Homo sapiens: one gene and its partner. The protein of the gene in region 2 interacts with the protein of the main gene of each other region in a biochemical or structural test. Each region holds a gene or a part of one and is shown on either strand. Other genes may lie near its edges.

Evidence for each region.
Region 1: the proteins of ZNHIT3 (region 2) and HNF4A form a complex in vitro, tested with the Homo sapiens proteins (one study listed by BioGRID).

The regions. Positions count from the first base shown.
Region 1 is NC_000020.11:44,428,659-44,432,567, reverse strand, and holds part of HNF4A (hepatocyte nuclear factor 4-alpha), read right to left. Parts: intron 3,046-3,909; coding exon 2,903-3,045; 3' UTR 1-2,902. UniProt on the Homo sapiens protein: Transcriptional regulator which controls the expression of hepatic genes during the transition of endodermal cells to hepatic progenitor cells, facilitating the recruitment of RNA pol II to the promoters of target genes. Activates the transcription of CYP2C38.
Region 2 is NC_000017.11:36,484,266-36,488,174, reverse strand, and holds the start of ZNHIT3 (zinc finger HIT domain-containing protein 3), read right to left. Parts: upstream 1,495-3,909; 5' UTR 1,476-1,494; coding exon 1,390-1,475; intron 1,241-1,389; coding exon 1,209-1,240; intron 1-1,208.

The DNA of each region.
Region 1 (3,909 bases), on a different chromosome or scaffold from region 2:
GAAATAGAAGAGCGTTCATTTCTGACCCTCTCCTCTCCTCTGTCCACTCTCAGGAGAGCCATGCGGATTTTTAGAAGCTCCTGAGACCCGCCTGAAGATCAGGGTGTCTTGGTGGGGAAATTGTGCCCACGCTTGTCCCCCCAGCAACCCTCTGTTTGTCCATCAGATTTTATGTTTTAGGACCACAACTCAAGTAGCCAAAAAAAAAAAAAAAAAAAAAAAAGAGAGCGAGAGATTTTCTAATATCATGTCAGCTTAGAGTCAAAAAAGTAAACTTTGTTTTGTGTTTCTCACATTACAATAAAGTTATTAAGGTGGAATGGGTTTCTCCTCCAGAAAGGGGTAGATTCCCAGCAGAGAACTGACCCCCTGCTCCAACAGATTGTTCCCATGAAGGGCCACTGTTGCCCACGGCACTCCATGGGACATTCTTATCTCAACCTTTCTCCCAAGACAGAGGTCTGAGCAACGCTGGAGGGAGGAGGTGGAGGAACACAGTGGGAATGACCACAATGCCCAGAAATGGTTCCAGCCTCCCTGCCTTACCGCAGACCAGGCTGAGCCGTCTGGCAGGGATTTCAGGGGCACTTGAGTGAGGTGGTGGGGGAAGGCTTGGGAGCTCTGAGCAGGGCACAGTCTCCGCTGGGATTGGGGGCTTGGCTGGGACTGCCGTAGGGATGTGGTGATTCCTCCCTGACACATTGCCCCAATACTTCTCCACGCCTCTTTCTCATAAAAAACAATCACTAATGGTGGGATTTCTGGGCACTGGGGCACTGCCTCCAACCACTCAGAGGGGTCAGTGTTGAGCAGGGGGCAGGAGTCGGTCCAACAGTTTCCCTCCTACCTAATCACACCTCCAGCCCCATAACACATCCCTTTTGTTCACACTGGTCAGTGGCATTTTCCAGAATGTCCTCAAAGCCACCAAGATTCCACATGGATGACATGCTGGTCGCTCCATCCTGGGGTCTAATGCTTCCAGAATGCACCTGGAGTGACGGTCTCCGGAGCAGCCCTCAAACCCAGGCCTGCTTAGCCCTCCCCTGCCCCCACACTGTGCACACTGTCCCACCCCCATGCCAACAGGCCAGATGAGCCTGACTTCCAGGAAACAGACCCCTGCCACCCCTCCCCTTGACTTGGGGAGTGAAGAGAGAAAAGCTGTCAAGAGTCATGAATTCTCCTTAATATTTATCAGCAAACAGGATGCTCGACCCTAAGTGAATTTTAGTGCAGCCTCAGGCCAATCTTGGTCCTGGGAGTGGGCAGGGTTCCCAGAAGAACGAGTCTGGTTTCTGAGGCTGTAGAAGGGAGCCGGAAGCCCCTCAACTTGATCACGGTGAGAACACAGGGAGCCTTTGGAGAAGCTATTCAGCCACTGTAGTTAAGAGCTCCTGTTCTGATCCAGGGAGACCTGGGTTCAAGTCCTGACTCAGCCACTTCCTAGTTGTGTGAGTTTCAGAAAAAAAATCACTTCACCTCTTAGAACGCAATTTCAGCTTCTGTAACAATCTCTAGGTTAGGAGGGAGTGGGGCGGGTGAGGGCGGGGAGGGAGGAGGAGAATAAAAAACAAAAACAATCTCTAGGTTAATAGGGAGGAAGGGAGGATTAAATGAGATGATGCATGTCAGATGCCTTAAGACAGTGCCTGGGAGTAAGGAAGAGCTTGAGACAGGCCCTGGGAGCTTATTCCTCCTGGATGTCACTCTGATGTGAGGGTTTACCCATCTTGTCCTCTCCAGCCCCAAGCCTCATTACTCTCACCCGCATTATATCATCCACCCCACCTGACCTCCCAGCTTCCAGCCTCCCGTCCTCTGCAGAACTGCTGTGTTCATTTTCTGGAAGCCCAGCTCCCTGCATACTCCTTGAAGCTGATCAGGACCTCAGCCTGGTGTTCCAGACCCTATGCTCTCCAGCAGGCCCTCTCTCTCTTCATCATCCCTCTCCCACACCATTCTTCCTCAATTCTTGCTAGATTCTTACTACCACTAGGCCTTGGCTCAGGCTGTTCTTTGGAATGTCCCATCTCACCTGCTCTACCAGCCAGAATTCTACCCTTTCTCAAAGGCCTGGTGGATGGTCTGCCTCTTTCTGATGCTTTTCCTCTCCACTCCAAGTTCCTGTTGCAGTCGCCAACCTGGGTTTGTTTTCTCGGGTTGAAGGCCTTCAGGGATCCTCACCCAAGTACCCACCCAAGTCCCTGAAGAAGGAGGATGAGGTTGGGTTGGAGGAGAAAGGCGTCTTCCCTCACCACAGCCTTCTAGACCCTGCCTGGTGCCTGGTCCCAGTCAGTGCTTACAACATGTTCCCAGAATGACTGGGGGAATCGTTTCCAAGGCCTCCTTGGCCTCTGGAGAGGTGGTGTTGGAGAAGACGGGATGGCTGAGCAAGGTGACAGCAGAGGGAGGCAGCAGAGGTGGGGGCAGCAGCAGAAGGAGGAGCAAGGTGCCCCAAGTGCCACAATTGGACCCAGCCTCACAGGGCTCTGTCTGGACACCATGACAGGGGCTAGGAGAGGAGAAGCACCAGGCTAGGGAAGAAGGGAGCTGGGTTTAAGTAAGGCCTCAAGTCATCTCCAGGCGGCTGTCCTTTGGGATGAAGTCGGGGGTTGGACATGGATGAAGGTGAAGGTGAAGGCAGTGGCTTCAACATGAGAAAAGTTGTCCAAGGCAGTAGAGGTCTCCCCAAGTCAAAGTCTTGTTATCCAGAGCAGGGCGTCAAGGGTGGCAGTGGGATGTGGCCCTTAGGCCATGTTCTCGGGCCCTTCATCCTTCCCATTCCTGCTCTGGGACTGGTCCTGGCATCACGTCTTCCTTTGCCGTGACCACGTGATCACCAGGTGCTCTCTTAGGGGGCTGGGGGGAGCCAGTGGAGCCCCCAAGCCCCAGCGGCTTGCTAGATAACTTCCTGCTTGGTGATGGTCGGCTGGGGGATGGCAGAGAGGGGCTTGACGATTGTGGCGACGGCTCCCGGCAGGAGCTTATAGGGCTCAGACCCTGAGCCACCTGGCGGTGAGGGCTGTGGGGTCTCAGGGGTGGCTGGAAGGACAAACAGACAGACAGGGGCTGCTCAAAATTCCAGCCTTTGTGGGAGTAAATGAAGAGGCCCGGGAAAGTTCTCCCCTCCCACCCTGCCCCACCTTGACTTAATTTCTTCCTCTATAAAATGAGAGAATTAATTAAACCAGATAATCCCTAAGGTCTTTTATTGCTCAACCTTCTGTGAGTCCCAGATCATAAAGCCTAAGTTTTATGAGGTCTGGAAGGTCCTACCACCCATCTCCTCCATCATTTATTTGATATGCAGACTTGGACTGCTTCTCCCAAACCAAGGCCCAGGCCTGGCTGTCCCCAGCGGCAATGGGATGGGTGACAGGGATAGTCTTTCCTGGGAGAAGGAGCAGCAGTTGATGAAACCCCGGACCAGCTGGCTCAAAAAATACCATTTCTTGGATATTTAGGAGATGAGTAATAGAAACTAATTGGCCTCACTCTCATGGCAGGTTTGGAGAGCAAATTTGACCCAATTGGCCATCTTTGTTCAATGGAAAACTTTCCCTGAGAACAATGTCAGTAAAATATCATCTTATCTCAGTGGATCACTTCATCCCATTGATAATCTTATCCTTTGAAGAGCTTTGCCCAATGACAAGTTTATACTTTGGAGGTTTCAGAGGATGGTCTAGCCCAGCAGACATCCTGACCCAATGGGTAGTCTCATCTAATTGTCTAATGGATAGCCTTACCCAACTGTGCAGCCTTACTTCAATGACCACTTTTACTTAATGGACAATGTCAACTAATGGAATTCTCACCCAAGAACATCTTCACCCAATGGGTTACCTCATCCAGTGGATTGCCTCATCCCAACAATGGCTTCATTCAGTAAAGGCTGTCAGTCAC
Region 2 (3,909 bases):
AAAAAAAAAGTTCTATATATTGGTACAAGAGTGGAAATAAGCTGAAAGAATCTACATCAAGCTTTTTTTTTTTTTTTTTTTGAGACAGTCTTGCTGTCTCCCAGGCTGGAGTGCAGTGGTACGATCCTGGCTCACTGCAACCTCCTCCTCCCAGGCTCAAGCGATCTTCCCACCTCTGCTTCCTGAGTAGCTGGGACCACTGGCACAGGCCACCACGCCTGGCTTTGTTTGTTTATAGAGACGGGGTTTCGCTATGTTGCCCAGGCTGGTCTCAAACTCCTGAGCTCAAATGATCCGCCCGCCTCGGCCTCCCAAAGTGCTGGGATTACAGGCGTGACCCACCGCGCCCCACCTACATCAAACTTTTTTTTTTCTTTTTTTTTCCAGACTGAGTCTGGCTCTGTAGCCCAGGCTGGAGTGCAGTGGTGCGATTTCGGCTCACTACAACCTCCGCCTCCCGGGTTCAAGCGATTCTCCTGCCTCAGCCTCCTGAGTAGCTGGGATTACAGGCGCGCACCTCGCCCGCCTAATTTTTGTATTTTTAGTAGAGACGGAGTTTCACCATGTTGGCCAGGCTGGTCTCGAACTCCTGGGCTCAGGTGATCCACCCGCCTTGGCCTCTCAAAGTGCCGGGACCACAGGCGTGAGCCACCGCGCCCGGCCAGGTCACTTCTTTTTAACTGTACAAAAGTGTGTTCACATCATACACAGAACTTACTTGGTTCTTTTTTTCTCTTAACAAATCAAGGACGTCTCCTTGTATTGTACATGGACTTACCTCTTTGTTTCTAACAAGACATTATTTACACGAGTGAAAATACTGTTAAAGTTAGCGCAGTTTCAGCCAAATGGTGAGGGGCTACATCAGAATACTGAGGAAGAAACTGCTAGGGTAGACCTCGGTGGGAAAAGCAATCGGAAACTATTTCTAAGCAAAAAAGAGTAACACGCAGAAGGAGAAGCGGGGTAGAAGAAAGGCTACTGACCAAAACCCTGAGAGCGATTACAGGCAGGGACAACAGAGGGAACTGTCCGACACACAGAGACACCAGGGACCAAGTCAGAGGAAGCAAGGTTCCTGCAGAACCCGCGGAGACCCGAGGCGGGAAAGGAAGCGCAGCCCAAGGGTCCACGCCCCCAAGACGGAGGCTGGACGTGGGGGCTGCCCCGTGCGCAGTGGTACGAGGGCTGGCGGGGACGGGGCTCACCTTTGTGCTTCCGGAAGCAGACTACCGAGCAGCTGTAACAACAGAGGCCACAGGCCGCGTCAGCCCCGAGGGTCCCCGGCCCCTCCAGCAGCCCGCCCGCTCCCGCCCGGCCTCCCGGCCTCCCGCCCTCCCGCCATGGCCGGACACCCGCGCCCCTGGACCCCGCGACCTCCCCGCTCACTAGGGCACGCGGCAGGCTGGACAGCGGTATTTGGGCTTCTCCAAGCAGATCACGCAGACGACGGTGCTACATTTGAGCGACGCCATGGTTTTGTGGAAGGAGACTGTTCACTGCGCCGCCGCGCGCCTCTCACGCAGCCGCGCCCGCGTGCACGCCCCTTTTTCCGTTTCCTAAACGGGGACCAATCAGCGCTCAGCAGGTAGGCAAAAGCAATGGACTGATCCTGCTCACTGTTCCAGCCCTCGTACTTAGAGCGTCGATACACTCGATGCGCATCTATTAGCTGCGTCCCAGGTTTTCCTTGATTAGATCACAGCGTCGAAGAACTTGTTATGTAGCCCAGTCCCTGTCCCTATGCGGCCGTGTGGCTTGGAGCAAGCCATCGACACTGTCCAGGTGTGTTGCCCCGCATGTAAAAAAGAAAACAATACATGGAACTAAACGTCCTTTACTTTCTGGCTGGGACTTCCTGAATCTTGCAGGGACATTGGGGTTCATCCGCCCATCTCATCTGCTTATTCTTGGCAAAGGACAAGTCCAGACATTGGGCGAACCAGAATCGGTTGGATCACGCAGTAGACAGGAACCTGCCCTTCCCAACCTAGACCATTTTTCACTGGGGAAAGAAAGATGAGCCTGAACAGTGGCAAATGTTTGAGCTCCAACTGTGAGCCCTTCCGGGCTGGGGACCCCCCGGGGTCTTCTAATGAAGAAGTCGTCTCTGTCCCCTGGGAACTAAATGCTTAGAGTGAAAGTAGGACGGGGAAACGGGGAGGAAAGAGACTCACTCTTAGAGTCCTGCCGTCGCTACCCTGCACCTGCACGCCCCTGAGACTGAGTGCTTCTTAAATTTTGCACTCTAGGCTCCTCACACCTCCCCCTAGTCCCGGAAGCTAATTGACCAGGAAGCAGGCCAGTGACCACTAGTCCCAAGACGGGGATCCCAGGCAGATGAGTCTGGATAGATGGGCTATGATGGGACTTGAATGCCACCACAAACTTTAGGTTTAGAAAAAGTAATGTTTTTTGTTGTTTGTTTTTTAAGGAAATTTGCTTGCAGCTAGGCATGGCCCAGCCTTACCTTAGCTCCCATCCTACCTGCACTGGGCCCTCCCAGGGCCATAAATCACCCTTACTCCCAAGTGCCTCCTCTTCTGTGTTGGCCGTTCAGCCTTCAGGGTCCCTCTTCAATAAAGGTGTCTGCAGGGATGTATCTGCAACAACCGAGGCAGTGGTTTGAACCTTGGCTCAACCCCCTCCCTGGCTGTGTGACCTGGAGGGGTTGGTTACCCCCTCTGAGCTCCCTCATCTATTAAAGTGGATGTTTGGGCCTACTTTCCTGAGCTGTTGTAAAGCAGAGAGGAGACCATGTGCAAAAGTTTTGTAATCAGAAGTGCTACCTGATATCTAGAAAGAGTCTTAACTCTCATGGATCTCCGTCTGGACCGCATGAACATAGGTCCCAGGCCCCAAGCCATGCTCTCCAAAACAGTTCTGCCGCCTGCTTCTTGAGTGGGAGGTGAGTAATTATCCTTCCTTTGGGCGTGGCGACCCAGTCCAGTCCTCAGTGCTGAAGCTGCTGGGCCCTCTGGCCACCTGCCTGTCCTGCTTGCAGCTGCCCCAGCCTCCAACTTCTGCCCAGGACCCAGCTTAGAATCCAAAACGGGTCCACACAGGCCCAGTAACCCGCAGCGTTCCTCATATTGTTCAACAGTTGTACCACTGATGATTTGAACTTGAAGCATCCCAGAAAGTCCAAGCTTACCTGGGAAGGCCAGAGAAGGCCAGTGACTTGTCCAGGGCCATATTTAAATCCTGTGCCAAGTCGGGCATGGTCGCATCAGCCTGTAGTCCCAGCTACTTAGAAAGTTGAGGCTGGAGGCTCACTTGAGCCCAGGAGTTCAAGGCTGCAGTGAGCTATGATTGTGCCACTGCATTCCAGCCTGGATGACAGAGAGAGAGAGACCCCGTCTTAAAGACGAAAAATTTAGGCCAGGCGCAGTGGCTCACGCCTGTGATCCCAGCACTTTGGGAGGCCAAAGCAGGCAGATCACTTGAGGCCAGGAGTTCAAGACCAGCCTGGCTAACATAGCAAAACCCTGTCTGTACTAAAAATAGAAAAAATTAACTGGGTGTGGTGGTGCACGCCTGTAATCCCAACTACTAGAGAGGCTGAGGCACAAGAATCGCCGGAACTCTAGAGGCAGAGATTGTAGTGAGCCAAGATCATGCCACTGCACTCCAGCCTGGGCGACAGAGCAAGACTCTGTCTCTAAAAATTAAAAAAAAAAAAATTTAATTTAAAATCCTGTGCCCCACCAGGTAAGGTGGCTCACGCCAGTAATCCTAGCACTTTGGGAGGCCAAGGCGGGCACATGGCTTGAGCCCAGGAGTTCAAGACCAGCCTGGGCAACATGGCAAAAACCCATCTCTACCCAAAAAGATACAAAAATTAGCGGGGGGCAGTGGCTTGAGCCTGTAATCCCAGCTACTGGGGAGGCTGAGGTGGGAAAATCGCTT